2 linked regions of the Homo sapiens genome follow. The protein of the gene in region 1 binds, or shares a complex with, the protein of each later gene. Each region holds a gene or a part of one and is shown on either strand. Other genes may lie near its edges.

Region 1 (16,110 bases):
AAGATAAGAGAAACCCTGTCTCTACTAAAATTACAAAAGATTAGTCAGGCGTGGTGGCGCATGCCTGTAATCCCAGGTATTTGGGAGGCTGAGGCAGGATAATCGCTTGAACCCAGGAGGCGGAGGTTGTGGTGAGCTGAGATTGCGCCATTGCACTCCAGCCTGGGTGGCAACAAGAGCAAAACTCCGTCTAAAAAAAAAAGAAAGAAAAATACGGCCTACAGAGTTACACAAACACGTCCCATTCTATCCTGGCTATTACACAGTGGTATATGACCTTCAGTGAGTTGCATAACCTCCCTGAGGCCTTGTTTCCTCATTTTTGAAATCAGGACAATACCCACATCTCATAGTATTATTATTATGAGTAATAAGAGAGAAAACACGTGTGCATTTCTTAGCCCAGTAGCTGGGCTATTATCTAATGTTAGTTTATCATCTAATAAACTCTAATATCACCAATTGTTGGGAGCAGGCCCCCCAAATCTGGCCATAAACTGGCCCCAAAACTGGCCATAAACAAAATCTCTGCAGCACTGTAACATGTTCATAAAGGCCCTAATGCCCATGCTGGAAGGTTGTGGGTTTACGGGAATGAGGGCTAGGAACACCTGGCCTGCCAAGGGCGGAAAACCACTTAAAGGCATTTTTTTTTTTTTTTGAGATGGAGTCTCGCTCCGTCGCCCAGGCTGGAGTGCAGTGGCGTGGTCTCGGCTCACTGCAAGCTCCACCTCCTGGGTTCACACCATTCTCCTGCCCCAGCCTCCCGAGTAGCTGGGACTACAGGCACCCGCCACCATGCCTGGCTAATTTTTTGTATTTTTAGTAGAGACGGTGAAACACCATAGTTAACCAGGATGGTCTCCTGACCTTGAGATCCACCCGCCTCGGCCTCCCAAAATCCTGGGATTACAGGCGTGAGCCACTGCGCCGGCCCTTAAAGGCATTCTTAAGCCACAAACAATAGCATGAGCAATCTGTGTCTTAAGAGCGTGTTCCTGCTGCAGTTAACTAGCCCAACCTATTCCTTTAATTCAGCCCATCCATTTCCCATAAGGGATACTTTTAGTTAATTTACTATCTATAGAAACAATGCTAATGACTGGTTTGCTGTTAATAAATACGTGGGCAAATCTCTGTTCGGGGCTCTCAGCTCTGAAGGCTGTGAGACCCCTGATTTCCCACTTCACACCTCTATATTTCTGTGTGTGTGTCTTTAATTCCTCTAGCGCCGCTGGGTTAGGGTCTCCCCGACCAAGCTGGTCTCAGCAACCAATATTAGAGTTTTTTCTTAAAGTTCTCAGTCTTTTTTGCTAGTATTTTGTCTTCAAAACTTTTTTATTTTTGTAAGTCAGAGTCTTGCTCTGTCACCCAGGCTGGAATGCAATGACGTGATCTTGGCTCACTGCAATCTCTGCCTCCCGGGATGAAGTGATCCTCCTGCCTCAGCCTCCTGAGTAGCTGGGATTACAGACATGCGCCACCATGCCTGGCTAATTTTTGTATTTTTAGTAGAGATGGGGTCCCATCATGTTTCCCAGGCTAGACTCGAACTCCTGACCTCAGGTGATCCACCCACCTTGGCCTCCCAAAGTGTTGCGATTACAGGTGTGAGCTGGTGTGCCCTGCTGTCTTCAAAACTTTTAAGATATGCCCAAATAATAGATCTGGAACTAAAACCTATTTGTACAGACTTTTCAGCTTATTATTTCTATTTCTGATAGTGCAAAACTTCCAAACTAGCCTCAAAGATGAGACATGAATCCTTCTCCAGGTTTTCACCACCACCACCACCAGAATCTTCATCTCGAGATCACTAACTACATACACCCAGCCCTTCCTCTCCTGAAGGCTTTACCCTCCTGTTGATGGGCCATAGCTAAGTGTGATTTCCAATCAGCAGTGGTCCTGGCGTGGAGTCCAAAAAGCTCTTGCTTGAGACACAAGATAGTAGCACCAGTGATTCTTGCACTGACAATGGTTCTTACACCTAGCTGTGCCTCACCCCTGAAAATTCCACTCAGGTTCCTGAGGTGGAACCCAGACCCTAACACAGTAAACAAGTCCCACAAATGATTCTGATGCAGAACCAAGGATTGAGATCCACTACCCTAGAATAGTGGCCAAGTTGATTTACCCTGATGCTCACCCTTTTCTGACATTCCTTCTGGTGGCAGTGTCAGTAGCTTTCATTTGCCTAGGAGGGCAGAAACAAAGAAATGAATCAGAGACTTACAGTACTGTTAAGTGTGCTGTGAACAGGCAGAACAAAGAGCTTGAGTTTCTGAGGAAAGAACCAGACATAAAAGGCAAATGGCACAAGCTTAAGAGCTCTGAGAGACTATGCATTACTGCTTCGGCACAGATTATTGAAAAGGCTTTTTAGTAGCAAAGGGGCATGCCTCCGACCACCCTAACAACCTGACAGAGCTGTTCCTCTCAAGATGGCGTGGCTATCTCATGTCAACCTCACTCACCTGGAACTGACTGCTGGCTGGGGACATACACACACACTAGGGCTGGACTGTGTGGTCAGAGCAGCAACCTAGGATAACAACTAGTCCCCACCCTGCATGACTACCCCTCAGGGTTGCTGTATGACTACAGTGCTGCCACTTGTATGCTCAGAGCAAGCGATGAAAGAGGAAAGAACACCTCTTATAACTCTGGCTGTGTCTCTTCAGAAAGATCAACACAGAGGGTTCTGGCACAGAGCTCAGCAATGCTGCACTGCTCTGGGCCACTGATTGAAGGCCAGTTGTTCAGGAGACTTGTGTTGTCCAAAACTCTGTTTTCTAATTCTTTGTATTGAGCAATTTCTAGGAAGATGTTCTAACTGGATACTAATGATCCGTTCTCACCCATTCTCTCGTCTCAGTTTGGTGATTTTTGTAACATCATTCTCTGGACCTCCTGAATGAAGCTGTTTGGAAACATCGACTTCTTTGGACCTAACAGGTAAGAGACTCTTAGAAGTGGCCCGAGTTTGTGTGTCTGCAAAGGAAAATGAGAGGTAAAGCTTCTGGCATCATGACCCGACAGTTGCAACCCTGTAACAAACAGAGCCCCATTCGAAGTTGTCATAAATCTTTATTTTACTTTATTTTAAAAAGTATTATTTATTTTTTTGAGACAGAGTCTTGCTCTGTGGCCCAGGCTGGAGTACAGTGGTGTGATCTTGGCTCACTGCAACCTCCACCTCTTGGGTTCAAACGATTCTCCTGCCTCAGCCTCCCGAGTAGCTGGACTATAGGCACCTCAAATATGTTTTAAAATTTTAAAAATAGAGACAGGGTCTCACTATGTTGCCCAGCCTGGTCTCGAACTCCTGGGCTCAAGCAATCCTCCTGCCTTGGCCACTCTGGCGTGAGCCACGATGCCTGGCCAAATCTTTATTTTCATTCTGGCAAATTTCAACATGTGAAGATTAATTCAAAAGAATAAAACTTCCAGGCTAATTGGCAATAAAAACCAAAATTATTTAAACGTGACAGTACAGCATGTTTGAGGGTAGCCAAAAGTTTCATTGAACTGAAAGGTGTAGGCTGTAAAAGTGAACATGGAGATGGACACCAGCAGAGAGCAGGGTGGAAGTTAGCAGGTAAAACATGCCTGAATCCTTGTACCATCTCATTAAGCTCCTCCAAGCACTCTGCACACTCTCCTAAGGCATGACTGAGCTGCTCTGAGTTTTTTTAAACCGTTACTTCGTTGTTTTTACTAGAATGTCTTCCTAACCATTCTAAGGCATCTTTGTGTCCCCATCACCTAGGAAAGTATCTGGCATATGAACAGGGGTTCAATAACTGCTTGTTGAATAAATGAAACACTTCACAGTTCCATGGGTTGTTTCACAGACCATCTCTAAACCACCTGTCTGGTCCCTTCCTCTTCCATGCTGCCTGCCTCTACCACTAGCCCTTTTGTTTACCCTTTGTTAAGTTTAGAGTTTCCCTATTAGGCATTCTAATCTGATCTTCTTGCCAGATAACCAGAGAAATGGCCCTGCCATAACACTCTTCTTCCCCAAAGGAGAGCATTTTCCTCTATCCTTGTGCCAGCCCCGCAACCACACAATCTATCATTTGTGTTCTACAGCAAATTCAAGTAACTTATCTGGAGTTAAGCACCCCCACCCTCACATGCAGGCTTTTCTGGACTTACTCTCACTTTGTTCACTGTAAAATGGCCCCTTTAAGTTTGACCTAACTTAAGAGCCATTACAATCAAATCAAATTGAAGAAATGCAGTACAAATGAAGTATTAAAAGGGTTCTTTCTGAGGTGTCTGTCTGAAGAAAAAGGTAATCTTGGAGGAATATCATCTTCTCCTCTCTCAAGTATTAGTAAGTTTTAAACAATAACAAATCTACTCCATGTAAAATGGAGTTAACAGTCAATTGATCAAAATTAACACTCTTCATTGACTAGAATTGGTTCCAATAATTTGTATTTGCTAAAATCTAGGATTGCACTGTAGGAAAAATTCAGTAGGATTTAACAAAGCTGTCTCTTAAAAATGGGAGACACTGGGAGAGGAACTGGATGGCTGGTGTCAAGGAAGGGAAGGAAACTTGTTTATCATTGTATATGGTTTTCCACCTTTTTTTTTTTCACATGTGCATATATTACTTATCCAGCCCACGCTCAAAATCAAAACAAAAATCCTGGGAGGCAGCCTAAAAATTTGAAACTGTTCCAGTTACATATGATCATAAAGCTGGGACAGAGATAGAAATCAAAGAGATGAACACTTCCAACTTGGCTGAGAGAGCTAGTCACTGCCCACTGACTCAGGGGCACCGCATCTAAGGGAAAGACACAGCAGCTGAGAGACCTGGCTCCAGTTCTTCCAGCAACTCCTAGTCCCCGCTGGTGCCAGGATTACCATTCAGGTGTTCTGCGGCAACACAAGACAACAAACAACCCATTAAGCCTTTGGAGAAAAGCCTATTTACTTCAGAGCTCAATCTTTTTTTTTTTGAGACGGAGTCTCGCTCTGTCGCCCAGGCTGGAGTGCAGTGGCGCAATATCGGCTCACTGCAAGCTCCGCCTCCCGGGTTCACGCCATTCTCCTGCCTCAGCCTCCCAAGTAGCTGGGACTACAGGCGCCCGCCACCACGCCCGGCTAAGTTTTTGTATTTTTTAGTAGAGACGGTGCTTCACCGTGTTAGCCAGGATGGTCTCCATCTCCTGACCTCGTGATCTGCCCACCTCGCCCTCCCAAAGTGCTGGGATTACAGGCGTGAGCCACCGTGCCTGGCCACTTCAGCGCTCCATCTTGCCAAGGTTTATGTACCAGCTGAGTGGAATCATCTGGGAAGGGATCATAAATAGCTACTCCATAATCTCCCACAACAGTTTTCTGATGTCTGAAGCTTACTCTGTACTATAATCTCTAGATTAGGCAGTTCCCCGACTGCAGACCCCATGAGATGACTTTCAACCACAAGCAAAGCAACACAAAGCAGATGGCAAAGCAATTAAAAACTATTTTTAATCATGTCTCTCTCTTCGCCCAAGTTTCTCAAATACTGTGCCTAGGTCTAACCCCTCTCTCCCACTTCACTCAACAAACGTGTATTGAGAATGTGGTAATGAGAAACACGGTGCAGATATAAAGGTGAACAAAGAACCCTAAGTATCCCACTTCTCAAATGATTCTCCTCTTTCCTCCCTGAAAACAAACCCAATCCCTCAAGATAGCCCAAGTCTGGAAATAAGACGATAACCGATTAGAAGGGGATTCCTAGCTTAATGGGAATAACATTGTACAATAACCAACAACTTGAATCTAACTGATGAATACAGTACACATGCGGGCAGAAAAGTGCAGAGCACGTCTAAAATCCTACCACATGGTCCTTCCCTTAACTCCCATCATAAACCTACATAGCCTGGTTATAGGGGGCTCACAGGTTTTCAGGGCCGACGGGACGCCCTTCCCCGTGCCCGCGCCACCCATTCGATCTCCACACTCCCGAGACCATCCCCGGCCAGGCCGCAGTGCCCCGGGCGTGGCTTGGACCCTCACCTGCCGGCTGGCCGCCGCTCAGCGCAGAGGGGGGCTGCAGGCTATACACTGTCTTAACCACACTGGTCATCGTAACGAGGCGGCACGGCTGAACCCTGGAAGGTACAGGATGAATGTTACCCAGCGCTGGGCCACTGGGCCCGAGAGAGTGGAGGGCCCGGGGATAGCGCGACCCGACAGGCCCCGGCTCGGGGTTGGAAAAGAGAAAATCCTCCTTTCCCAGCTCATTCCGTCCTTCCTCCCATCCAGCCCAGTCCCTCGCCCCGGGAGAGCCGAACCCAGGAGCCCGCCGGTCCTGCCCGCAGTCCTTCTCGCTCTCGTTTAAAAGATTCCCTGCAGCAACTGTCGTGCCACCGGCTAAGTCGGCCGCCTGGGTTTCAAATAGAAACTTCCGGTAGCTAGGCGGAAGTGGGTGGGAATCGCACTCTGTAGACAGCCATGTTGTACGGAAAACTCTGTCCAGGGGCGGGGCTTCGGGAGCCGCCATACTGTACGGAAGGTTCGCTCAGAGGCCAGAGCCAGACCTAGCGAAAGGTGTTGGAGCCCCCAGGTCTGGGCAGAGGAGGAGGGTGATGCAATTTGTAGGCTTGAATGGAGCTAATGAGCTACCAGCGTCATATTCCGGGATGGAGACGCAAACGTGGCGACATTTAGGGTCCATGTCACAATCCTCTTTATTTAGTTTGGGATTGTTAGGGATATTGCCAGGAGCACAGGTTATTTGGATGAAAACTACACGTTACAGGTGGAGAGTGGCAGGTGAGGCTTGAAGAAAAGGACCTATGGGCTGAGATACCTGAGGCACCTACCTGAGGTCCTAATTTTAATAGCACTTATCCAGATTTTCAGTAGTGATTCAAAGCTACTCCCAATAAACAGGGTAGCTTCCATTACTAAATGCACTAGCTCATTCATTTCATCTGGCATTTATTGAGTACCTGCTGATTACCCAACAGTGTTCTCAGTGGGTGGAAGGGAGTGAGGGAGGGCAAATATCAAGATTGACCTTGGCTCTGCCCTCCTGGAGTTTACAACTTAGAAAACAGACAGTGAACAAATAATCACATAAATAAATATATATTTACGGATTGTGGTGAAATTGTGAAGAAGGCTGGGCACAGTGGCTCACAGCTGTAATTATAGCACTTTGGGAGGTGGAGGCGGGTGAATTGCTTGAGTCCAGGAGTTTGAGACCACCCTGGGCGACATGGTGCAACCCCGTCTCTACAAAAAATACAGAAATTAGCCAGGTGTCGTGGCATGCTCCTGTAGTCCCAGCTACCCTGGAGGCTGAGGTGGGGGAATTATGTGACCCTGGGCGGGGCAGAGGTTGCAGTGAGCGGAGATCGCGCCACTGCACTTCACCCTGGGTGACAGAGCGTGATCTCAAAAATCAAACCAAAACACACACACTATGAAGAAAAAGTACAAAATCGTATAAGATAGAAAAGCAGGGAAACTTAGATTATATTGGGGGCTCAGGGAAGACCTCTCTGAGATGATGTTTGATTAAGGAAGGAGAGGGAGTTAATTTCATTGGGGAAAGGGGAAAATGCAAAGTCCCAAGGCAGAAATGGGTTCTTCTATAGGCACAGAAAGATAGGAAGAGAGTGGTACAGATAAAGCTGGAGAAATAAGCAGTCAAAAGACAGATTTTACAGGCCAAGGTATAGAGATTAGATTTTATCTAAAAGTAATGGAAAGCCACTGAAGTATTATAGCAGGAGAGTGTCATCCAATTTATATTTTATTTTATTTTATTATTATTTTTTGAGACAGGGTCTCACTCTGTTGCCCAGGCTGGAGTGCAATCATAGTTCACTGCAACCTTGAACTCCTGGGCTCAGGAGATCCTCCCACCTCGGCCTCCTGAGTAGCTAAGACTAAAGGTGCCTGCCACCAGACCCAGCTAATTTTTGTAGAGATGGGGTCCTGCTATGATGCCCAGGCTGGTCTTAAACCCCTGGCCTCAAATGATCCTCCCACTTCAGCCTCCCAAAGTGTTGGAATTACAGGCATGAGCCACTGTACCTGGCTCAATTTATATATACTTTATATATATATTCTTTTCTTTCTTTTTTTTTTTGGAGACGGAGTCTCACTCTGTTGCCCAGGCTGGAGTGCAGTGGCACGATCTCGGCTCACTGCAACCTCCGCCTCCTGAGTTAAAGCGATTCTCCTGCCTCAGTCTCCCGAGTAGCTGGGTCTACAGTGCCACCACCACGCTTGGCTAATTTTTTATATTTTTAGTAGAGACGGGGTTTCACCATGTTGGCCAGACTGGTCTCAAACTCCTGACCTCAGGTGATCTGCTCGCTTCGGCCTCCCAAAGTACTGGGATTACAGGCGTGAGCCACCACGCCCAGTCCTTTTTCTTTTCGAATAATTGGGCTTGAATAATTGTGTGGATAGAGTCACTATTTTCTGCTGGGGGAGATTGAGAGTTGGGTTTTGAACGTGGAAAACCTCGACATATCTTTGAGGCATTCCGGTGGAGTGGTCAAGTAGGCAATTGGAAATACAGGCCCTGAGCCCAGAAGAGAGCCTGGATTGGAGATACACCCTTGGGAGTTGTTGACATATGAATGTACTTAAAATCTTGATATTTAGGAGTTCGAGACCAGCCTGGCCAACATGATGAAACCCCGTCTCTGCTAAAAATACAAAAAAATGGCCAGGCACAGTGGCTCACACCTGTAATCCCAGCACTTTGGGAGGCTGAGGTGGGATCACTTAAGGCCAGAAATTCGAAACCAGCCTGGCCAACATGGTGAAACTCCATCTCTACTAAAAATACAAAAAACTAGCCAGGCATGGTGGTGCATGCCTGTAATCCCAGCTACTTGGGAGGCTAAGGCAGGAGAATGACTTGAACCTCAGAGGTGGAGGTTGCAGTGAGCCGAGATGGTGCCACTGTACTCCAGCCTGGGTGACAGAGCGAGACTCTGTCTCAAACAAAATAAAATAAAAAATAAAATAAAACCTTGATATTTGATGAGCTCAAGAGAAGAAGTGTGCAGAGAGCCTTTGGGCCAAGGACAGGGACACCTGCATTTAAAAGTTGCAATGGTAATAAGGTGCTTGCCAAGAAACCTGATAAAGAAGTGCCAGAGAGGTGAGAAGAAAACAAAAAAGGGTGGTGTTCCAAAATCCAAGGAGGAAGTGGCAAGCTGCTGAAGGAGGGAGTGGTGAACTATTGAAAATAGTTGAAAGGGCAAGCAGAATGAGAACGAAAAGCATCCAATGAATTTAGCAACAGAGAAGTCATGATGAGTCTAGCAAGAGGAATGCTGGTGGAGCGTTTGGAGTGGCAGTCACATGGGCATGGGTTGAAGAGTACGTGGGAGATGAGGAAGCAGAGATGGCAGAACTCCAGGCGTCTGTTGCAAAAAGAGCAGAGCAACTGGGCAGTAACTGGAGATGGGTTATGGGGGTCAAAGGAAGCTTTCCTTAAAGCTGTGGATATGTGTGCTGATAGGAACGAGCCAGCAGAACAGAGGGAAAGGATACTCAGGAGCAAGGAAGAAGGAAGATGGGATCCAGAGTAGCATCTTTAAATTCCTTTATTCATGCGCCCCCACAAAATAAAAAAATAAAAAAACCCTCTTGCCTGTTTTCACTTGATACCTAAAATTTAAGTTTACTTTTATTTTTATTTTTTTAGAGGCAGGATCTTGCTATGTCACCCAGGCTAGAGTGCAGTGGCTATTCACAGGTGTGATCATAGATAGCGTACTGTAGCCTTGAACTTCTGGACTCAAGCCATCCTCTCACTTCAGCCTCCTAAGTAGCCAAGACTGTAGGCATGCACTATCTCACCTGGCTTAAATTTTTTTCATAACTTTAAATCATTGTAAAGGACATACTTTCTGCCTGTTGTATATTGTGTATACTTTTTTTCTTTTTTTTTGAGATACGGTCTCGCTTGGTTTCCCAGGCTGGAGTGCAGTTGTGCGATCATAGCTCACTGCAGCCTTCAACTCTTGGGCTCAAGCGATCTTCCTGCCTCAGCGTCCCAAGTAGTTGGGGCTATAGGCACGTGCCACCATGCCTGGCTAATTTTAAAATTTTTTTGTGGAGATGAAGTCTTGCTATGTTGCCCAGGCTGGTCGGGAGCTCCTGGCCTCAACTGATTCTCCCACCTTGGCCTCCCAAAGTGCTGAGATTACAGGCATGAGCCACCCACCTGGTCACATTGTGTATACTTTGTATTCTTTTCTTTTTTCTTTTTTTTTTTTTTTTTGAGATGGAGTCTCATTCTTTTGCCCAGGCTGGAGTGCAGTGGTGCCATCTCGGCTCATTGCAACCTCTGTCTCCCGTACTCAAGCGATTCTCCTGCCTCAGCCTCCTGAGTAGCTGGGATTACAGGCATGCACCACCACACCAGGCTAATTTTTGTATTTTTAGCAGAGACAGGGTTTCACCATGTTGGCCAGGGTGGTCTCGAACTCCTGACCTCAGGTGATCCGCCCGCCTCAGCCTCCCAAAGTGTTGGGATTACAGGCATGAGCCACTGCGCCTAGCCCTTTGTATTCATTTCTAAAATTCTTTCTCTTGGTGTTTTTTGGATAATTTCTATTGTTATGTCTTCAAGTGCACTACTGTTTTTTCTGCAACGTCTAAACTGTTGTTAATTCCATTCAGTGATTTTCCATCTCAGACTTTTTTTTTTTAATTTTAAAAACACTTTTAAATTCTTTATTTTGGAATCGTTATAATTGACAGGAAGTTACAATGATAGTATAGGGAGGTCCTTTGGACTCTTTACCCAGTTTCCCCCAATGGTTTTGTTTCAGTACAATTTTAACAGCTTTATTGAGATATAATTAACATTCCATAGACCACATATTTTAAGTGTACAATTTGATAAGTTTAGAAATTACATATACCTGTGAAACCATCACCACAATTAAGATAATAAACACAGCCGTCATCCCCAAATCATTCCTCCTTCCCCTTGGTACTTCTTCCCATCCTCCTCTTTCTGCCTACCCCACCCACCCCATCATCTCAGACATTTTAGTTTTCGTCTCTAAAATTCAAAGTGGGTATTTAAAAATATCTTCCTAGTCTCTACTTAGTACATATGGAATACAGTTATAATAATTCTTTTAGTGTCCTTGTCTAATTCTCACATAGGTGTCAGCTGTAGTGGTTTCAACTGATTTTTCTCCTTATGATGGGTTATAGTTTGCATGACTGGTAATTTTTTATTGGAAAACCAGCCATTGTGAATTTTACATTTTTGGGTGCTCGTTAATTTTGGATTTCTGTTAATGTTCTTGGGTTTTGTTCTGGGATACACTTCAGTTACTTAGAAACAGCTTGATTCCTGAATTCAGGTCTTGCTTTTGAGATTTGTTAGGTAGGTTCCAGCAATGTTTAAACTAGGGCTAATGAATCCCCACTACGAGGCAAGGCCCTTCTGAGACCTCTGACCAATGCTCCATAAATTTGAGGTTTTCCAATCTGGCTGATGGGGACAGGCGTGGTCCAGGCTGTGTGTGACTTCTGGCTACTGTTCCGGCCCATTGTTTTGGGTGGTCCTTTCCTTTGTCTCAAGTGGTTTCCTTACACTTATATGATGAATCATGCTCTGTGGAACACTCAAGGGGGGCCCTTTGCAGATCCCCAGAATTCTCTATATATCCACCTTTCTCCTCTCCAGTACCCTGTCCTGAGCACTCTAGCCAGCTTGGCTGCTCCACACTCCCAGCTATCCCCTCACCTCAGAGTCACTTGCTTTGCCTGGGTTCTCCCTCCGTGAAATACATCCTCTCAAGCGGTAAGCTGGGCAACCGAGGGGTTCTCCTTGTTTGTTTCTTGCCTCTGAGAGATCACTGTCTTTTGTTACCTCATGTCCAGTGTCTTGAAACTCATTATTTCATGTATTTACTGTTTGGTTGGTTGTTTCAGGCAGGAGGATAAACTTGGCCCCTGCTCCTCCATCTTGGCTGGAAAGGGAAGTTGTATCTGTACTTTCAGTCAAAAATTTTTTTTTTTTTTTTTGAGACTCTGTTGCCCAGGATGGAGTGCAGTGGCGCAATCTCGGCTCACTGCAAGCTCCGCCTCCCGGGTTCACGCCATTCGCCTGCCTCAGCCTCCTGAGTAGCTGGGACTACAGGTGCCCGCCACCACGCCCAGCTATTTTTTTGTATTTTTAGTAGAGATGAGGTTTCACCATGTTAGCCAGGATGGTCTCGATCTCCTGACCTCGTGATCTGCCCGCCTAGGCCTCCCAAAGTGTTGGGATTACAGGCATGAGCCACCACGCCCAGCCTTCAGTCTGTTTTTGTTCAAACTGTGGAGCTGCAGATTAAAGTTATTCCATTTTAGGGAAAATGTCCACCATACATCCTACTTGCAAAGACTATCCTCTCTGTCAAACCTGTGAGCCAATTCTGACCTTCTAACAGAAAAAGTCTGATTTTATTTTTCCATTCAAATCAATGTGGTTAATATGTATCCTGTGTCAACCATCTCACTTTCAGTTTAAATTCTTCTTTATTTCTTTTTTTAGAGTTAAGGTCTCGCTCTGTTGCCAGGCTGGAGTGCCATAATGTGATTATGGCTCACTGTAACCTCGAACTCCAGAGTTCAAGTGATCCTCTTGCTTCAGCCTCTGGAGTAGCTGGGTCTACAGGCGCATATCACCATGCCCAGCTAATTTTTATTTTTATTTTATTATTTATTTATTTATTTTGAGATGTAGTCTCGCTCTGTCACCCAGGCTGGAGTGCAATGGCATGATCTTGGCTCACTGCAACCTCTGCCTCCAGGGTTCAAGCGATTGTCCTTCCTCAGCCTCCTGAGTAGCTGGGACTACAGGCATGCTCCACCACGCCCGGCTAATTTTTGTATTTTTAGTAGAGACAGGGTTTTGCCATGTTGGCCAGGCTGGTGTTGAACTCCTGACCTCAGATGATCTACCTGCCTCGGCCTCCCAGAGTGCTGGGATTACAGGCGTGAGCCACCGCGCCCGGCCCATGCCCAGCTAATTTTTAAAATTATTTTTTGTAGATACGGGATCTTGCTATGTTGCCCAAGCTGGTCTCAAACTCCTGGCCTCAAGCCATCCTCCCACTTCAGCCTTTCAAAACACTGGGATTATAGGCATGAGCCACTGTGTCTCACCTGAAGTTGAATTATTTTTAAAAATTTTTATTATTTTTTCCTTTTTAATATATATTTATATATTTTACAATATAACATGTCAATGAATTTGAATTCTTAAATGAAGAAGGCACAGAACTGAGCCACAGGGCTGCCCCTGTGAACTTTCTCAAAGAAGCTCTCCAGGCTTTGCTCTTTCAAGGACTTCCTCAAGCAGAGCATTCTCAAGTGGCCCTTTTATTTGTTTTTTACAGCGCAGAGCAAGGAGCCAGAGTAGGATTCAGAATGAGGGAGGGGAGGCAACTGGGAAAGTGGAAGTTGGGAAGGACAGCTGTCAGGCCTGTGGCTTCTTAGGCCCACCAATATAAGGAGGGGAACATATGGAGAAGGCGGCTCTGGAAACTGATTACTTTAAAACTATCTGTGTCCACCTACCTTCTAGAAAGTCTTCATGTCCTTGTAGGGGAGTGCAAACCCTCGTGTGAAGGCCTCTGACACCAAGTGTGAGAAGCCATTGATGGAGCCATTACTGCTTCCTTCGTTGTAGCAGAAGGGATGGGGAGAGGAGCAGGCAGGAGCGGGGGTAGGTAAGTTGTGGCTTTGGTGCCTTGAAGGTGAGGAAATTTCTATTTGAAGGCTTCAGTTTTCTTCATGAAGAATTTTTTTTTTTTTTTTGTCCACTGAGGGGTGGGGGAAGGTGAGATATTTGAGGAAGGTGGAGAAAATATAAAAGAGTCAATACAAATAATCAAAACTAGTAGCTAGAATGAATACTAGCTAGGCAGAGCTGAGGGTCCAGTTAAGATAGGTGGTCATGAATTCAAATCTACATCAATCTGCTCAGCTGTGTGATTTTCTTTAGCAATATTAAAGCTCTTGTTTGTTTGATGGTTGTGGATTTGGTAAAATGCTGATCTTTCCCCTATATTGAGAAAAATGTGAGTAATCACAAAGAGGCCCGATAATAATTATGAGAAATTTATCAAGGCCCTTCCAGTGTTCCTCTGCATAAGGTGGCTTTGGATGGCCAGACATTTACATAGCACATAGTGGCTTTCTTTTGTTTCTCATATTCCTGGTGAATTGAACTACGATTTCTTCTCCTAAGCATAAATACCTGCAGACCTTAGTTACAGTCATCCCTGTGAACAAGGGTGTGGGTAGAAAGGGTGAGGAATGTCTGTCTTTCCTATCACCAGGTAAATGGGATCTTGATGCTTGGCATGGGGTCCCAAGAGCTTGCCATTACCCATGTGTATTATCAAAAAATGAGATACTGCCACCGTCAAAGAAAAGATCAGGGCCGGGTGTAGTGGCTCACACCTGTAATCCCAGCACTCTGGGAGGCCGAGGTGGGCGGATCACAAGGTCAGGAGATCGAAACCATCCTGGCTAACACAATGAAACCCCGTCTTTACTAAAAATACAAAAAATTTGCCAGGCGTGGTGGCAGGTGCCTGTAGTCCCAACTGCTCGGGAGGCTGGGGCAGGAGAATGGCGTGAACCTGGGAGGCAGAGCTTGCAGTGAGCCAAGATCGTGCCACTACACTCCAGCCTGGGCGACAGAGCAAGACTCCGTCTCAAAAAAAAAGAAAAGATCAGAAACTCTCTGGACGATAGGCAAAGGTTGTAAACCAATGTATCCTCTTTCTTAAAATCTGATTTAAAGCCTTCTTCCCTGTCCTGACATGCACTGGGAGAAGGACAGAATGAGTTGGAGGGGGCTAGGGAAATTTTGGCTTATAACTCTCTTGAGAAATGTCTTTTTAAAAATTGTCTCGGCCAGGCGCGGTGGCTCATGCCTGTAATCCCAGCACTCTGGGAGGCCGAGGCAGGCGGATCATGAGGTCAGGAGATCGAGACCATCCTGGCTAACACTAAAAATACTCTACTGTCTCTACTAAAAATACAAAAAATTAGTGCAGTGAGCCGAAATTGTGCCACTGCACTCCAGCCTGGGCGACAGAGCAAGACTCTGTCTCAAAAAAAAAAAAAAAAAATTGTCTCAAGCTGGAATATTGCCCGCATATCATGGTATGGGATATGCTATATATCAGTAAAATCTAAGATTCAGCCAATAAAATCAGTCTGTCTAACACTGTCACTCTAAAAGTCCCCAAATCACCACAGCCATGGAAGGATGGTTTTCCCATGGTAACAGACTATATCAAGTTTACATATATATATATATATATTTTTTTTTTTTAAGATGGAGTCTCGCTCTGTTGCCCAGGCTGGAGTGCAGTGGCGCAATCTCGGCTTACTGCAAGCTCTGCCTCCTGGGTTCACATCATTCTCCTGCCTCAGCCTCCCGAGTAGCTGGGACTACAGGCGCCCGCCACCACACCCGGCTAATTTTTGTATTTTTAGTAGAGACGGGGTTTCACCATGTTAGCCAGGATGGTTTCGATCTCCTGACCTCATGATCCACCTGCCTTGGCCTCCCAAAGTGCTGGGATTACAGGCGTGAGCCACCGTGCCCGACTTATTTATTTATTTATTTTTTGAGACGGTGTCTTGCTCTGTCATCCAGGCTGGAGTGCAGTGGCACGATCTCGGCTCACTTCAACCTCTGCATCCCGGGTTCAAATGATTTTCCTGCCTCAGCCTCCTGGGTAGCTAGGACTACAGGCATCCCCCACCACGCCCAACTAATTTTTGTATTTTTAGTAGAGGCGGGGTTTCACCATGTTGGCCAGGCTGGTCTCAAACTCCTAACGTCTAGTGATCCACCTGCCTCAGCCTCCCAAAGTGCTGGGATTACAGGCATGAGCCATCATGTCCGGCCTCAAGTTATATTTTAATAGCATACAGGATACATACTCGTACTCAGAATGTGAGTTCAAGGATCAGTGGCACAAATAGGGGAAATGACCTCAAGTTCCAAATGTTAATGTAGTTCTATTAGAGTGTCTGAGTGGGGAGAAATCATTTCTTGAATTTTGCAGGGCAAGCATAAGTGCT
Region 2 (15,122 bases), on another chromosome or scaffold:
TGAGGCTGTGCGTGAGGACTTAGTACCTTCTGAAAGTAACGCCTTCTTGCCTTCCTCTGTTCTCTGGCTTTCCCCTTCAACTGCCTTGGCAGCAGATTTCCGTGTCAATCATGTGGACCCAGAGGAGGAAATTGTAGAGCATGGAGCTATGGAGGAAAGAGAAATGAGGTTTCCCACACATCCTAAGGAGTCTGAAACAGAAGATCAAGCACTTGTCTCAAGTGTGGAAGATATTCTGTCCACATGCCTGACACCAAATCTAGTAGAAATGGAATCCCAAGAAGCTCCAGGCCCAGCAGTAGAAGATGTTGGTAGGATTCTTGGCTCTGATACAGAGTCTTGGATGTCCCCACTGGCCTGGCTGGAAAAAGGTGTAAATACCTCCGTCATGCTGGAAAATCTCCGCCAAAGCTTATCCCTTCCCTCGATGCTTCGGGATGCTGCAATTGGCACTACCCCTTTCTCTACTTGCTCGGTGGGGACTTGGTTTACTCCTTCAGCACCACAGGAAAAGAGTACAAACACATCCCAGACAGGCCTGGTTGGCACCAAGCACAGTACTTCTGAGACAGAGCAGCTCCTGTGTGGGTAAGCGCCCCTATGTCCTTGCACCTCGTGAGTTCCATTACCCTGGACCTTCCCCTCCCATCCCTTCCCCTCCTTTTCTTTTCGTCATGTTCTTCTCTTTCTGCTGCAGCCGGCCTCCAGATCTGACTGCCTTGTCTCGACATGACTTGGAAGATAACCTGCTGAGCTCTCTTGTCATTCTGGAGGTTCTCTCCCGCCAGCTTCGGGACTGGAAGAGCCAGCTGGCTGTCCCTCACCCAGAAACCCAGGACAGTAGCACACAGACTGACACATCTCACAGTGGGGTAAGAAGGTTCCTCTCAAAGCTTGAGGGATCCCAGTGGGGATCCTTGGAATTTAAGCTGAGAAGCTGCCAGAGGGCAAAGGGGACTCCTATCACAGGCTTATACTTAGAACATTTGCAAAAGCTGAGAATCTGGGCAGTCACAATGGCTGATGCCTGTAATCCCACTGCTTTGGGAGGCCAAGGTGGGAGGACTGCTTGAGGCCAGGCATTTGAAACCAGCTTGGGCAACACAGCGAGATCCCATCCCTACAAAAGATTTTTAAAAAATCAGCTGGATATGGTTTTGCATGCCTCACTACTCAGGAGGCTGAGGCAGGAGGATCATTTGAGCCCAGGAGGCTAAGGCTGCAGTGAGCTATGATCATGGGCAAGACAGTGAAACCCTGTCTCTTAAAACAAAAAAGCTGAGGATCTGGAAAATCCCCTTAAAGCTGTGGGTAGTCACTCTACCCCTGGGGTACATCAGAACTTTCCAAAGGAGTGCAAGCAAGGAAACTTTTAAAGGAATTGGTTTTTAGATCATCATCTTCCACAAGTATTCTTTTTCTTCGTTTTTTGCATTGGTAGACTATATTTAATATTTTAAGAAAAATTATGAATAAGCCTAAAACATTTTTTAAAATAATTTTTAATTTTTGTGGTTACAGAGTTAGGTAAATATATTCATGGAGTCCATGAGATGTTTTGATATAGGCATGTGATGGTCAATAATCACATCATGGAAAATGGAAAATGGAGTATCTGTATCTGTCCCCTCAAGCATTTATCCTTTGTGTTACAAGCAATCCAATTATACTTTTAGTTTTTTTTTTTTTTTTTTTTTTTTTGAGACGGAGTCTCACTCTGTCACCCAGGCTGGAGTGCAATGGCCTGGTCTCGGCTCACTGCAACCTCTGCCTCCCAGGTTCAAGCGATTCTCCTGCCTCAGCCTCCTGAGTAGCTGGGACTACAAGCGCATGCCACCCCACCCGGCTAATTTTTGTATTTTTAGTAGAGACAGGGTTTCACTATGTTGGCCAGGCTGGTCTCGAACTCCTGCCCTCATGATCCACCTGCCTCAGCCTCCCAAAGTGCTGGGATTACAGGCGTGAGCCACTGCGCCTGGCCCCTGTTGTTTATGTGAAGAAGATTTCTCAGTGTTTACATCTGTCAGAATGGAAAGGAGTCAGCTGGCATAGTGGCTCACCCCTGTAATCTCAGTACTTTGGGAGGGTGAGGTGGGAGGATCGCTTGAGCTCAGGAGTTCAAGACCAGCCTGAGAAGTATGGTGAAACCTCATCTCTACAAAAAAATACAAAAATTAGCTGGGTGTGGTGGTGTGTGCCTGTAGTCCCAGCTACTTGGAAGGCTGAGGTGGAGGATCACTTGAGGCTAGGAGTTCAAGGCTGCAGTGAACTGAGATCTTGACACTGCACTCCAGCCTGGGCAACAGAGCCAGACCCTGCCTCAAAAAACAGAGTCACGAATTGTTGCTGAACTATTTCTTATTGCTGGAATTATAGTAATCCACAGATATACGAACTAATAAGGGGAAGGAATCTCCATCGATTTCATTAATAGGTGATTCCCAATTAAATTTTGCCGAGCATGTTTATTTTATTAGAAATTATATTACAGTGACTAATATACAACTGATTAAAAGATTTCTCTATCCTAAAGAAAGCTTTTTCACTTTAAAGCCTTCCGGTCAAAGGAATTTAAAGGAAATTTTAATTTAAATTTAGATGAACTTTCATTGTTGTTGCAGAGATGATGGTTAATAACAGATTTTATTTTTATTTTTTGAGATAGTTTCTTGGTCTGTCACCCAGGCTAGAGTACCATGTTGCGATCAGGGCTCACTGAAGCCTCAGCTTCCTTGGCTCAGGTGATCCTCCCACCTCAGCCTCCTGGGTAGCTAGGACTGTAGGTGTATGCCACCACACCTACCTAATTTTTTTGTATTTTTAGTAGAGATGGGGTTTTGCTATGTTGGCCAGGCTGTTCTCAAACCCCTGGGCTCAAGTGATCTGCTAGCCTTTGCCTCCCAAAGCACTGGGATTACAGGTGTGAGCCACTGTGCCCAGCTAATAACATACTTTAAAGCATAAAAATATATTACATTAGGCTGAAATTCTGAGAAAAATAAAAAATATATGTTCAAAGAGAAAAAGGGATGACATAATAAAATTTCTGACTGCTAAGAAGAGCTTTTTCTTGTATTTTTAAAAGATAGCAACTAGGTATCTCATCATTTTGGTGTATGTAGTATTTATGCCACTGGATATATTTAAGAGTAATCTAATAATTTTATTTTAGGCTGGGCATGGTGGCTCATACCTGTAATCCCAACACTTTGGGAGGCCGAGGCGGGAGGATCACCTGAGGTCAGGAGTTCAAGACCAGCCTGGCCAACATGGCGAAACCCCGTCTTTACTAAAAATACAAAAATTAGCTGGGTGTGGTGGAGGGCACCTGTAATTCCAGCTACTTGGGAGGCTGAGGCATGAGAATCGCTTGAACCCGGGAGGCAGAGGTTGCAGTGAGCCAAGATCGCGCCACTGCACTCCAGCCTGGAGGATAGAGTAAGACTCTGTCTCAAAAAAAAAAAAAATTATTTTAAATTGTCAATATTGGTAATATGCTGGACATTACAGCCTTTGCAACAATTTAAACTTAAGGGTACTTAGTTTTTGCAGGAAATATTAGAGGAAAGTAGCTAAAAGACCACTGTTGGCCCAATGTGGTGGCTCACGCTTATAATCCCAGCACTTTGGGAGGCTGAGGCCGGCAGATCACTTGAGGCCAGGAGTTTGAGACCAGCCTGGCTAACATAGTGAAACCCCATCTCTATTAAAAATACAAAAGTTAGCTGGGTATGGTAGTGCACTCCTGTAATCCCAGCTACTTGGGTGGCTGAGGCATGAGAATTGCTTGAACCTAGGAGGTAGAGGTTGCAGTGAGCCGAGATCACCCAGTGTACTCTAGCCTGGGCAACAGAGTGAGGCTGTCTCAAACAACAACAACAACAATGTTCTAGAGGATTGTATTACAACACAGGCCTAAGAAGGAAGGGAATGGTGGCAGGTGAAGGAATTGATAGCACCTCACCATTGTGGCTGTTGAGATAATAGGTGGCTGCTGCTAAGAAGAGATGGTCCCCAAATGTGCAGAGACCTCCTTTGAGTTGAAAATATCCTCAAAGTAATGACCTTACCATTTGCCAAAAATCCTGGAAACCATAAGCTCCATGTTCCTCCAGCTGTTCAATTTCCCTCCTGTTTTCTTATCTTTGTGTCCTTTCCTCTTGTTCTTGACCTTGTTTCCCATCCCTGAATCTGCCATGCATCCTCTTCCCCTGAAGGTTGCCAGGTCCCTTTGTAGGCCACTGAAGCAGAACCAAAGAGGGGAAATGACATACCTTTAGCCATTCTCCATCAGCATGCCATGTCCTTGCTGCCTGGCTGCCTCCTTCACATTAATCTCATCACCTGCCTGACTGTCCAGCTGAGCACGATGTGAGCCCTATCCAAGCTCATGTGCTACTCTGTGCCTTATTTCACGATGCAGCAGTGAATGATAACTGCTTTGCTGGGGAAGGGAGCCATGAACTCCAAGAAATCAGCAGTGCTGCTCCAGTAGTAACTTTTCCCCCAGATGATGGCTGCCTTGCCTCAGTAATGAAGACTCCCACTTTTCTCTTAGAACTTGTCTTCTGGGGTTCTACTGCCTTTGAGATCATACCTACTTACTCTATGCATACTATGAGTTTTATCTATCTGACCCAGGATAATGAGCAGACAATTAAGAAAGTAAAAATGATGAATAAATACCTAAGAAGGTTAGCATTATTGGCAATAAAAAATGCAAATTGAACAGTGAGATGCCATTTTCTTGTGACTCAATAGCAAAGAATAAAATAGGTAATGCTGGTAAGCATACTCTATTTATCTGCAGGATATAAATTGGTTCATCCTTTTTTTTTTTTTTTTTTTTTTTGAGACGAGGTCTCACTCTGTTACCCACACTGGAGTGCAGTGGCACGAACATGGCTCACTGCAGCCTCTACCTCCTGGGCTCAAGGGATCCTCCCACCTCAATCCAGCTGAGTAGCTGGGAATATAGGCATGTGCCACCATGCCTGGCTAATGAAAAAAAATTTTTTTTTTTTGAGACGGAGTTTTACTCTTGTTGCCCAGGCTGGGGTGCAGTGGCGTAATCTCGGCTCACTGCAACCTTGCCTCCCGGTTTCAAGTGATTCTCCTGCCTCAGCCTCCGGAGTAGCTGGGATTACAGGCACGTGCCACCACGCCTGGCTAATTTTGTAGTTTTAGTAGACATGGGGTTTCTCCATGTTGGTCAGGCTGGTCTCGAACTCCCGACCTCAGGTGATCCGCCCGCCTTGACCTCCCAAAGTGCTGGGATTACAGGTGTGCGCCACCGCGCCCAGCCTTTTTTTTTTTTTTTTAGAGATGGGGTTTCACTGTGTTGCCCAGGCTGGTCTTGAACTCCCGGACCCAAGTGATCCTCCTGCCTCAGCCTCTGAAGGTGCTGGGATTACAGGCATGAGTCACTGTGCCTGGCTAAACAAAGAAATTTTTTACCTACCTGTGGATTTTTCTTTCTGACTTGGCTTCATTGAATTGAGTACTTTGCTTCTGCTTTTAATAGGAAAGGTGGCTGGGTGTGGCAGGAGCACTTTGGAAGTCCGAGGCAGGAGGACTGTTTGAGGCCAGGAGTTTGAGACCAGCCAGGGCAACATAGCAAGACCTCATCTCTACAGAAAATAAAAAATAAATAAAATAGGAAAGGCTCCTATAACTCACTGGGTGGGAGGAAGAATGAGGTGCTGGTGGTACATGTTGCCTACTCAAAAGGAACAACTTGGCTGGTCATGGTGGCTCACCCCTGTAATCCCAGCACTTTGGGAGGCCGAGTCGGTGGATCACTTGAGGCCAGGAGTTCAAGACCAGCCTGGCCAACATGGTGAAACCCCGACTCTACTAAAAATATACAAATTAGCTGGGTGTGGTAGTGCATGCCTGTAATCCCAGCTACTTGGGAGGCTGAGGCATGAGAATTGCTTGAACCTGGGAGGTGGAGGTTGCAGTGAGCTGAGATTGTGCCACTGCACTCCAGTCTGGATGATAGAGCAAGACTCTGTCTCAAAAACAAACAAACAAACAAAACAAGGAACAACTCTGTTTTTCTGGCTAGATAACTAATAAACTTCAGCATCTTAAGGAGAGCCATGAGATGGGACAGGCCCTACAGCAGGCCAGAAATGTCATGGTAAGTGATGATTGACCTTACACCACCACTGGGTCTCCTGTGAAGATGAAGAATGGAGAATCCTGGGTGGTTAGTAGATGGTGATACTAAGTCGTGGTGGTGAAGGGAGGTTTCCAAACATTTGTAAAGTACATCTCCTTATGCGGAGCTTGGAATTGGGGTTAGCGGTTTTCCTCCCCAGTGCCCCTGTTTCCTGCTTAGTGACTTTATTTGATCTCACCTACCCATTTTTTTCTCTACAGCAATCATGGGTGCTTATCTCTAAAGAGCTGATATCCTTGCTTCACCTATCCCTGTTGCATTTAGAAGAAGATAAGACTACTGTGAGTCAGGAGGTAAGCAGCCTGAAGATGGAGGTGGAGGCCTGTGGTGGGACTAAAAGCCATAAAGAGGAACCAGACACATTAACTGATTCTTACCATATAGTCTCGGCGTGCAGAAACATTGGTCTGTTGCTGTTTTGATTTGCTGAAGAAATTGAGGGCAAAGCTCCAGAGCCTCAAAGCAGAAAGGGAGGAGGCAAGGCACAGAGAGGAAATGGCTCTCAGAGGCAAGGATGCGGTAAGGTGACAGGCATTTGTTCTTGGATGTGGGAGGTTTCCACCTCAAGGTTCCTGCAGGAACACAAATGCACTTTAGACACAGATGGGTGGCCTAAGAACTGCCTGCCCTGGGCAGTAAAGAACTGATCTATTGAGGTGTCATGGTTACATCTTTTTGTGCTGGCTCCCCTGTTGCCCACTGTGGCCTTGCAACCACTTCCCTCAATAGGCAGAGATAGTGTTGGAGGCTTTCTGTGCACACGCCAGCCAGCGCATCAGCCAGCTGGAACAGGACCTAGCATCCATGCGGGAATTCAGAGGCCTTCTGAAGGATGCCCAGACCCAACTGGTAATTTAAGGGCATTTTCTTTCCTGGGGTCTGTGCTGACAGACTGGGAGGGTAGTTGCATACTCCCACTTTGCTGTATCCAAAGGGAAGGGGTTCCCGCCTAGGCAATCTTTCTTTTGTAGGTAGGGCTTCATGCCAAGCAAGAAGAGCTGGTTCAGCAGACAGTGAGTCTTACTTCTACCTTGCAACAAGACTGGAGGTCCATGCAACTGGATGTGAGTATTTGGGACCATCATAACTAATTCCTTACTCACATCAAGTCCTGTTGTGAGCTTTGCCTCAAGTGTGCTCTACTGACCTGCTTGCTTCCCCTGGTAGTATACAACATGGACAGCTTTGCTGAGTCGGTCCCGACAACTCACAGAGAAACTCACAGTCAAGAGCCAGCAAGCCCTGCAGGAACGTGATGTGGCAATTGAGGAAAAGCAGGAGGTACAAACCAAGAGTGGGGACTGCTTAGGCTTGGTTTCCTTCCTAATGTGTGATACCATTAGCCTCTTACCCTGGATCTGTTTTCTTTTCACCCTGTGGGTTTGGAGGCCAGCCAGTAAGGTCTCTTAGCTGTAAGATGGCCTTAAGCGCAGTTTTTTCCTTTGCCCTTCAGCATCTTTACTTCAGCAACTTTTCTCCTGTCTCTACTTTTTCCTGAGGATCAACCTTATTTTCTGCAATGTTGATGCCCAGGAGCAAGGTAGTTTTCTGTCTTGTCCAGAAAGAGAAGCTGGACCAAGTCCTGGGATTATTGATTCAGGAGGAACTATAGGAGGAAAACCATCTGTTCTTCCTAGGTTTCTAGGGTGCTGGAACAAGTCTCTGCCCAGTTAGAGGAGTGCAAAGGCCAAACAGAACAACTGGAGTTGGAAAACAGTCGTCTAGCAACAGGTGTTTGTGTGTGTGTGTGTGTATGCATGCATGTAAGCATTTGAGCCCTGTTAAGGCTTGGAGTGTGGCACTAGAGCAAGGAAGTACTCAGGAGCACTTGCTTTGGAGCAGAAGTTTGGGGAGTTTCTAGCCTGCTGACCGCATGGTGTCATTAGGATACTTTTGTTCTAGATCTCCGGGCTCAGTTGCAGATTCTGGCCAACATGGACAGCCAGCTAAAAGAGCTACAGAGTCAGCATACCCATTGTGCCCAGGACCTGGCTATGAAGGATGAGTTACTCTGCCAGCTTACCCAGAGCAATGAGGAGCAGGCTGCTCAGTGAGTTCCTAACGGGGTACTGTGGCAGTAGGCATCCAGGATTTAGGACCAAATGGGATCTAATATGTTGTCTCTGGCAGATGGCAAAAGGAAGAGATGGCACTAAAACACATGCAGGCAGAACTGCAGCAGCAACAAGCTGTCCTGGCCAAAGAGGTGCGGGACCTGAAAGAGACCTTGGAGGTAAGGAATATGGCTTGGGCCAAGGGAGCTGGTAAGCCTCAGGAGTGTGATTCTTGCCTGATAGTGTTGAGGTAAGGTTTGAGACTGTGAACTAGAAAAAGCCTCTGTACCCAGGGCACTAAAATTCTCCCTCCCTGTCTTGCTCCTTCTCTTGTCTTCCCAGTTTGCAGACCAGGAGAATCAGGTTGCTCACCTGGAGCTGGGTCAGGTTGAGTGTCAATTGAAAACCACACTGGAAGTGCTCCGGGAGCGCAGCTTGCAGTGTGAGAACCTCAAGGACACTGTAGAGAACCTAACGTAAGTTCTCTAACTTTCTGTACTTCCCCCTAAGTGCTTATTTTTTTCTCAGGAACACTTCTAGAAGCCAAAATCTCCAAGAAGAGAACTGTGAGTGTTGAGCCTCTTGTTTCTCTCCTTTAATGCAGCTCTGTGGGGATTTGGGATAGGCGTTCAGAGAAGGTAATTTGGTCTTTGGTCATCTTCCCTGTTCCTTATTTCAGGGCTAAACTGGCCAGCACCATAGCAGATAACCAGGAGCAAGATCTGGAGAAAACACGGCAGTACTCTCAAAAGCTAGGGCTGCTGACTGAGCAACTACAGAGCCTGACTCTCTTTCTACAGACAAAACTAAAGGAGAAGGTAGGATCCTGGGGTTCCTTCTCTTCTCTTCCAATTGTATCTTTATTTTACAGATAGTCTTCCTAAAACATTACTCTTTTTCTAACTGTGACCTTTTATGATTTCAGTTACCTACAGGACCTCATTAGCCTGTTGCTCAAACCTTTCTTCCCCTGTCTCCTATCTCCCTATTATGAACACTTTGCCCCAGCTAGACTGCCTGTATGCTACACACATGTCCCCATTTTTATCCCCAGAACCCAGACTCTGGCTGTTCCCACATTCATTCTATTCTTTCTTCAAACTGGAAATGCCTTTTCTATTAAAATCCTCCCTTCCGACCTGGGCAACGTGGTGAAAACCATCTCTACAAAAAAATACAGAAATTAGCCCAGGTGTAGTGTTGTGAACCTGTAGTCCCAGCTATCTGGGAGGCTGAGGTGAGAGGATCACCTGAGCCTGGGAAGTTGAGGCTGCAGTGAGCCATGATCATACCTGGCTAATTTTTTTGTATCACTGCACTCCAAACTGGGTGAGAGTGAAACCCTTTCCCCCACAAAAAAAGAAATCTTCCCTGGTTTACCTTCTTTGAACTGTTCCCAAATCAAATCATGTGGACCCGGTGATCTTTTCTTCTGCCATATTTCTCATGAACTTACTCTTCTTTTGTATTTGTATTAATTTTCCTTGGATACCTGGTCTCTTCAACCAGACTATGTTTCAAGAAAGCAGAAATATAGCCTTCTTTGGCCTCCCTGCAGTGTGCACTAAACAATAAATGGTTGACATCATTCAGAATACAAAGGTAATTAGCTTATTCAGCAGATAAGGCACAACAAATATCCTAAAATCTGGCAATTGCTTATGACCTGATCCTCTTCCCCAACTGGGTACCGAGCACAGGAAATGCCATCAAATCTACAGTTTAGCATGGAAGACAAACAGATGTAAACTTGTCATCTTGACTTATGATCATGGTAGAGGTCTGCATGGACCACTGTGAGAGATAGAGAGGGGAGCACCACTTCAGCCTTCGAGAATTAGGATGCCTTCTCAAAGCAGCTGACCTTGGGTACAGTCTTGAGGTTTAGACGTTTGTGGGGCAGGGGAGGGTATTTAGGAAGTCCCACTAGGCAGAGGGAACGGTGTATGAAAGTTTCATCTGACTACATATGAGAGTCGTACGTAGAAAGTCATGCACATAGTACATGATGTGTTCTTTTTTATAGTGTCTACCTTATAAAACCTGGGTTAGGTGCTGGGACTAGAGGATGAACAAGGCAAGATGCTGCTCATATGGAATGCAGCAAGTCTGAGGAATGGGAAGCAGCTCTTCATGGCTGCAGCGTGAGAGCTCTGTGGGGCAAGGCAGGAGACAACACTGGAGAAGTAGGCAGGAGGCCAGATTTTGAAGGCTTGAAATAATGGCAGTTTTATAGGCAGTAGAAAGGAGAGGATGGAGTGAATGGATTCAATAGATATTTAGGAAGCAGAGGCAGTAGAACCAATTTGATGTAAGAGTGACCAATTTGATGTGAGAGTAAGTTAGAAGAGTGAATGATGATCCTTAGATTGCTAGGAAAGAGGGCCCAGCGGGTCAGCTGTGTTAGTGTGTGGAGACTAGGGCTAGTGACACCTCCGGGTCAGCTCTGTGCCCAGGAAGCACTTCAACCTGTGTGGCAGGAGGGATAGCAATAGGAAGCACTTCAATTCCCCACAACTCAGACACCCAGACGGGAGGGCAGAGGACCAAGGCTGAAAGGAGTAGAGAGCCTGAGAGAGAGATGAGACTGAGGGGAGCTAGTGGTGACTCAGGCTAACCAGTCAGCGGGAGAGACCTAGACCGGGGGGCAGAGAAGGCGGGAGAACTGGAGAGAGGACCTAGCCTAGGAGGAGAGGGAGCAGGCTGAGAAGGAAATGCTCTGGGTAGGAGAGACAGACTCCAAGGAAAAATCCAACAAGTAGAGGAGGATTTGGGATTGGAAAAGCTGAGGTCCAGCTGGGAGAGCTGAAGAGGGATAGAACAGAAGAGGTTGAGCCATGGGGTTTCAAGTACGCGGAAAGGAGCAAAGATGTTAGGAAAGGGTCGAAAGGGCACATCCCGGAGTCCCAGGTAGCAGGACGAGGATGGCAGGGGAAGAGCCAAGGAAATGAAGCGGAGATGTTGAGTGGCTCCCGCCTTGCCTGGCCTTACCTGTGCGCAGCCAGTTAGCAGCCGCAGCCACAAGCACAGCTACTTCAGGACTGAGGCCAGCAAGCTTTTCCTATAAATGGCCATATAATAAGTATTTTTGGCTTTTTGGGCCATATGGTCTCTGTCTCAACTACTCAATTCTGCCTTTGTAGTTCAAGAGCAGCCATAGATGATACAGCCATTAATGGGTCTGGCTGTGTTCCAATAAAACTTTATTTACAAAAATAGTTGGCAGGCTAGATTTGACCTGTAGGCCACAATTTGCTAGCCTTCCCTCTCCCTGCTCTAGAATAGTAAATACAGGAGTAGGAACAGACTTTTGATAGGGTGTTCCCTATCAGGGCACAGGGAAAATGGTGAACTCAGCTTCATACATACTAAGTTGACAGATTGACTGTGGAACCTTCTGGTAGATTCTTCACAGGCAGTTAGCCTTTGAGTCTGCAGACTGGGAAAAAGACTGGGAAAAAGTTGAGAGAGGGATGGAAGAGTCATTCATGTGGAAGGGAAGTTTGAAGTAGATGTTTTTGTGATGCTCCCAAGGCAAGGCCACCCTGGGAATGAATTAGAGTAAATTTAGGGCCAAGGACTTAACCCAGAGGATCCAGCAGTTAAGGAAGGACCTGTGAATAGAGAAGAAATAACCAGAAAGGTGTGGGGCCTGCCTTTAAAGGAGAGAGACTCATGTCCTGGAAGCTAAGAAAAGGAAGTTTCTAAAAGAACAATGTGGTCATCAATATCAAATAGGTCAGGTAAAACAAGAGCTGAAATATATGCATTGCATTTGAAAGTAAGGCTGCCATTGGTGAACCAAATGACAAGAATTTAGGTGGAATGACAGGGGAGAAGCCTGAGTGTAGTGGGCTGGGGAGTCAATAGATGGTGAGAGTTATAAACAAGAAGTATAGGCTCTTTTTTTCTTTCTTTTTTCTTTCTTTCCTTTCTTTCTAGAAAAGGCAGTAGCTAAAAGGGGATTTAAGGTAAGAAGAAGGGTTTTGTTTTGTTTTGTTTAGGTTTGTTTTTAAAATACTGCTGTTTTTGTTGGAGAGGCTTAAGAATATAAACATGTTCAGAGAAAGGCACTAATGGAGAAGTTGAAGATAGAGAATTGAGATAATAGGTGGAACAGCATTTTGGAGGAGATGGCTGGGAGTTACCTGGAAGCCCAGGAGTTCACTAGACCTGAACAGCAGCTATTTTTTCTTCTTTGCCCTTAGACTGAACAAGAGACCCTTCTGCTGAGTACAGCCTGTCCTCCCACCCAGGAACACCCTCTGCCTAATGACAGGACCTTCCTGGGAAGCATCTTGACAGCAGTGGCAGATGAAGGTTAAAGGCCCTGGGATTTGGGGGTGGGAAAGTTGTGACGCTGCTCCTGATATCTTCTGCTGTTGAAGATGTCCACCAGCGGGCTTGTCTATCTTACCCTGGCTTCCATTATGGTAGACCCCTGCCTGGATCATCAGAGGGGCCCTCTCCCATTATTGGTTTTTCTCTTAGAGCCAGAATCAACTCCTGTGCCCTTGCTTGGAAGTGACAAGAGTGCTTTCACCCGAGTAGCATCAATGGTTTCCCTTCAGCCCGCAGGTTAGGAGGGGCTCCAGGGATCCTGCCTCATTTCTAGAAAATCTGGTGGTGATGAGTAAAGACGAAAGCAGTGAGAAGTGCTTTGCTCTAAAAACCTCAATTCTACTTGGGCTCATTTTATTTCTGCCTTCTGGGATCTGTAATGTTCCAGACATTCAAATCCTGTGGGTGGGGAACACGGATAAGAGTTGTGGAAATGATGGCTATACACTCCTTCCTTCCAGGGCTGGAAGGCTAGACCTCTATCTGGGACTTTCTCTTTCAGAGACCCCAGGCATGGAGGAGAGCCTGGCAGAAATGAGTATTATGACTACTGAGCTTCAGAGTCTTTGTTCCCTGCTACAAGAGTCTAAAGAAGAAGCCATCAGGACTCTGCAGCGAAAAATGTGAGTGGGATGCAGTTTTGGTGACAGAGGGACAGTGAGACATCCTCTTATGCCAAGGGTCCAACTGATCCCTGAGAGGACAGGAATGTTGCTAAATTCTTCCTTCCTTCAGTTGTGAGCTGCAAGCTAGGCTGCAGGCCCAGGAAGAACAGCATCAGGAAGTCCAGAAGGCAAAAGAAGCAGACATAGAGAAGCTGAACCAGGCCTTGTGCTTGCGCTACAAGGTGAAGGAGGGACCTAGAAGTGGGGCGATGAAGAACTGGGGCAGCTCTACTGGCCCACTGGGAGCCATTATCTCTCCAGGAATCTGGGTGGTGGGGATTTTCCAACCACTGCCCTAGTTTTGCCCTTCCTGGGGTCAGACATTTCACATGTCAGCTATGGGCTGACCTGTCTTCCCAGGCTGACTCAGGAGAGAAGTCAGGAACTCTAGCAGAGCTCTCCCAACACTGAAATGTGCCTTGCCTGGCTTGGCCCTGGGGAAAGAATTGGCGTGATATCAATTGGTCCCATGTGGGCTAAGCATGGGTCAGGCACTCTCTCCTACCTCCTGGCAAGGGCTGTGAAGAGACCAGCTCTTCATGTGTCTTCTCACCTCCCTTTCCCTCACAGAATGAAAAGGAGCTCCAGGAAGTGATACAGCAGCAGAATGAGAAGATCCTAGAACAGATAGACAAGAGTGGCGAGCTCATAGTATGTTCACCATCATGCCCAGGCCTTTGCCTTCTGTGTTACTGGTCAGCCAGGATCCCAAGTATGAGAAATGGTTTGCTTTTGTTCACCACATGTTGTCTATCCTTATGTCCTATTGGACACCTCTCCATTCTCATTCCCAGAGCCTTAGAGAGGAGGTGACCCACCTTACCCGCTCACTTCGGCGTGCGGAGACAGAGACCAAAGTGCTCCAGGAGGCCCTGGCAGGCCAGCTGGACTCCAACTGCCAGCCTATGGCCACCAATTGGATCCAGGAGAAAGTGTGGCTCTCTCAGGAGGTGACTCAGAGTTAACAGAGGAGCTGGACAGCAGGTGGGGACCCCAGGCTGTACCCCTGTTGATCTGGACATATTTCTAGGTGGACAAACTGAGAGTGATGTTCCTGGAGATGAAAAATGAGAAGGAAAAACTCATGATCAAGTTCCAGAGCCATGTAAGAATGTCCATGCCATTCCAGGGCCATTTCCTACCATCGTTAACAAATGCCCCGCCATGTTTCCCCTGTCCTACCAAGTTTGCTCTTTTATGCATAGGACTTATAAAATCTGTTTGCTTTCTAGAGAAATATCCTAGAGGAGAACCTTCGGCGCTCTGACAAGGAGTTAGAAAAACTAGATGACATTGTTCAGCATATTTATAAGGTATAGGCAGGAGGGAGGTGATATCACTAATGAACCTGGTACAAGGCCTGGCCCCAGGAGGTACTAATGAGCACAGATCTGGTTCCCAGCCTGTGCTGAGAGCTGGGCCTGAATCACTATTGCAGGCTTCTCTGTGGTGTCTGTTTTCTCCCCTCTAATTCAGCGGCTGCCTCCTGGGGCTGGGAGCCCTGGGCCTTAAGTCTGTGGTCCTGAGCTGCGTTTTCTGCCTCTCTTCCCAGACCCTGCTCTCTATTCCAGAGGTGGTGAGGGGATGCAAAGAACTACAGGGATTGCTGGAATTTCTGAGCTAAGAAACTGAAAGCCAGAATCTGCTTCACCTCTTTTTACCTGCAATACCCCCTTACCCCAATACCAAGACCAACTGGCATAGAGCCAACTGAGATAAATGCTATTTAAATAAAGTGTATTTAATGAATTTCTCCAAGCTTACGGAATCTTACTTTTTGGGTGAGAGGGGGCGGATGATGAAGTCAGGGAAGAAGCAGCTTGGGCCTCCTGCCTGGGCACCCTCCATAGATCCCTCTCCACCTCCTGCTGCATC

Evidence for each region.
Region 2: KNSTRN (region 1) and SPAG5 share a complex: the UniProt entries of both Homo sapiens proteins name them as parts of the astrin (SPAG5)-kinastrin (SKAP) complex.

The regions. Positions count from the first base shown.
Region 1 is NC_000015.10:40,373,246-40,389,355, reverse strand, and holds the start of KNSTRN (small kinetochore-associated protein), read right to left. Parts: upstream 6,636-16,110; 5' UTR 6,521-6,635; coding exon 6,312-6,520; intron 6,129-6,311; coding exon 6,034-6,128; intron 2,995-6,033; coding exon 2,862-2,994; intron 2,198-2,861; coding exon 2,150-2,197; intron 1-2,149. UniProt on the Homo sapiens protein: Essential component of the mitotic spindle required for faithful chromosome segregation and progression into anaphase.
Region 2 is NC_000017.11:28,577,448-28,592,569, reverse strand, and holds the end of SPAG5 (sperm-associated antigen 5), read left to right. Parts: coding exon 1-588; intron 589-697; coding exon 698-872; intron 873-6,070; coding exon 6,071-6,145; intron 6,146-6,387; coding exon 6,388-6,480; intron 6,481-6,571; coding exon 6,572-6,706; intron 6,707-6,916; coding exon 6,917-7,036; intron 7,037-7,158; coding exon 7,159-7,251; intron 7,252-7,354; coding exon 7,355-7,468; intron 7,469-7,824; coding exon 7,825-7,918; intron 7,919-8,089; coding exon 8,090-8,237; intron 8,238-8,317; coding exon 8,318-8,420; intron 8,421-8,583; coding exon 8,584-8,717; intron 8,718-8,920; coding exon 8,921-9,059; intron 9,060-12,449; coding exon 12,450-12,561; intron 12,562-12,732; coding exon 12,733-12,819; intron 12,820-13,084; coding exon 13,085-13,205; intron 13,206-13,317; coding exon 13,318-13,429; intron 13,430-13,817; coding exon 13,818-13,898; intron 13,899-14,041; coding exon 14,042-14,197; intron 14,198-14,277; coding exon 14,278-14,352; intron 14,353-14,479; and 5 more. UniProt on the Homo sapiens protein: Essential component of the mitotic spindle required for normal chromosome segregation and progression into anaphase. Required for chromosome alignment, normal timing of sister chromatid segregation, and maintenance of spindle pole architecture.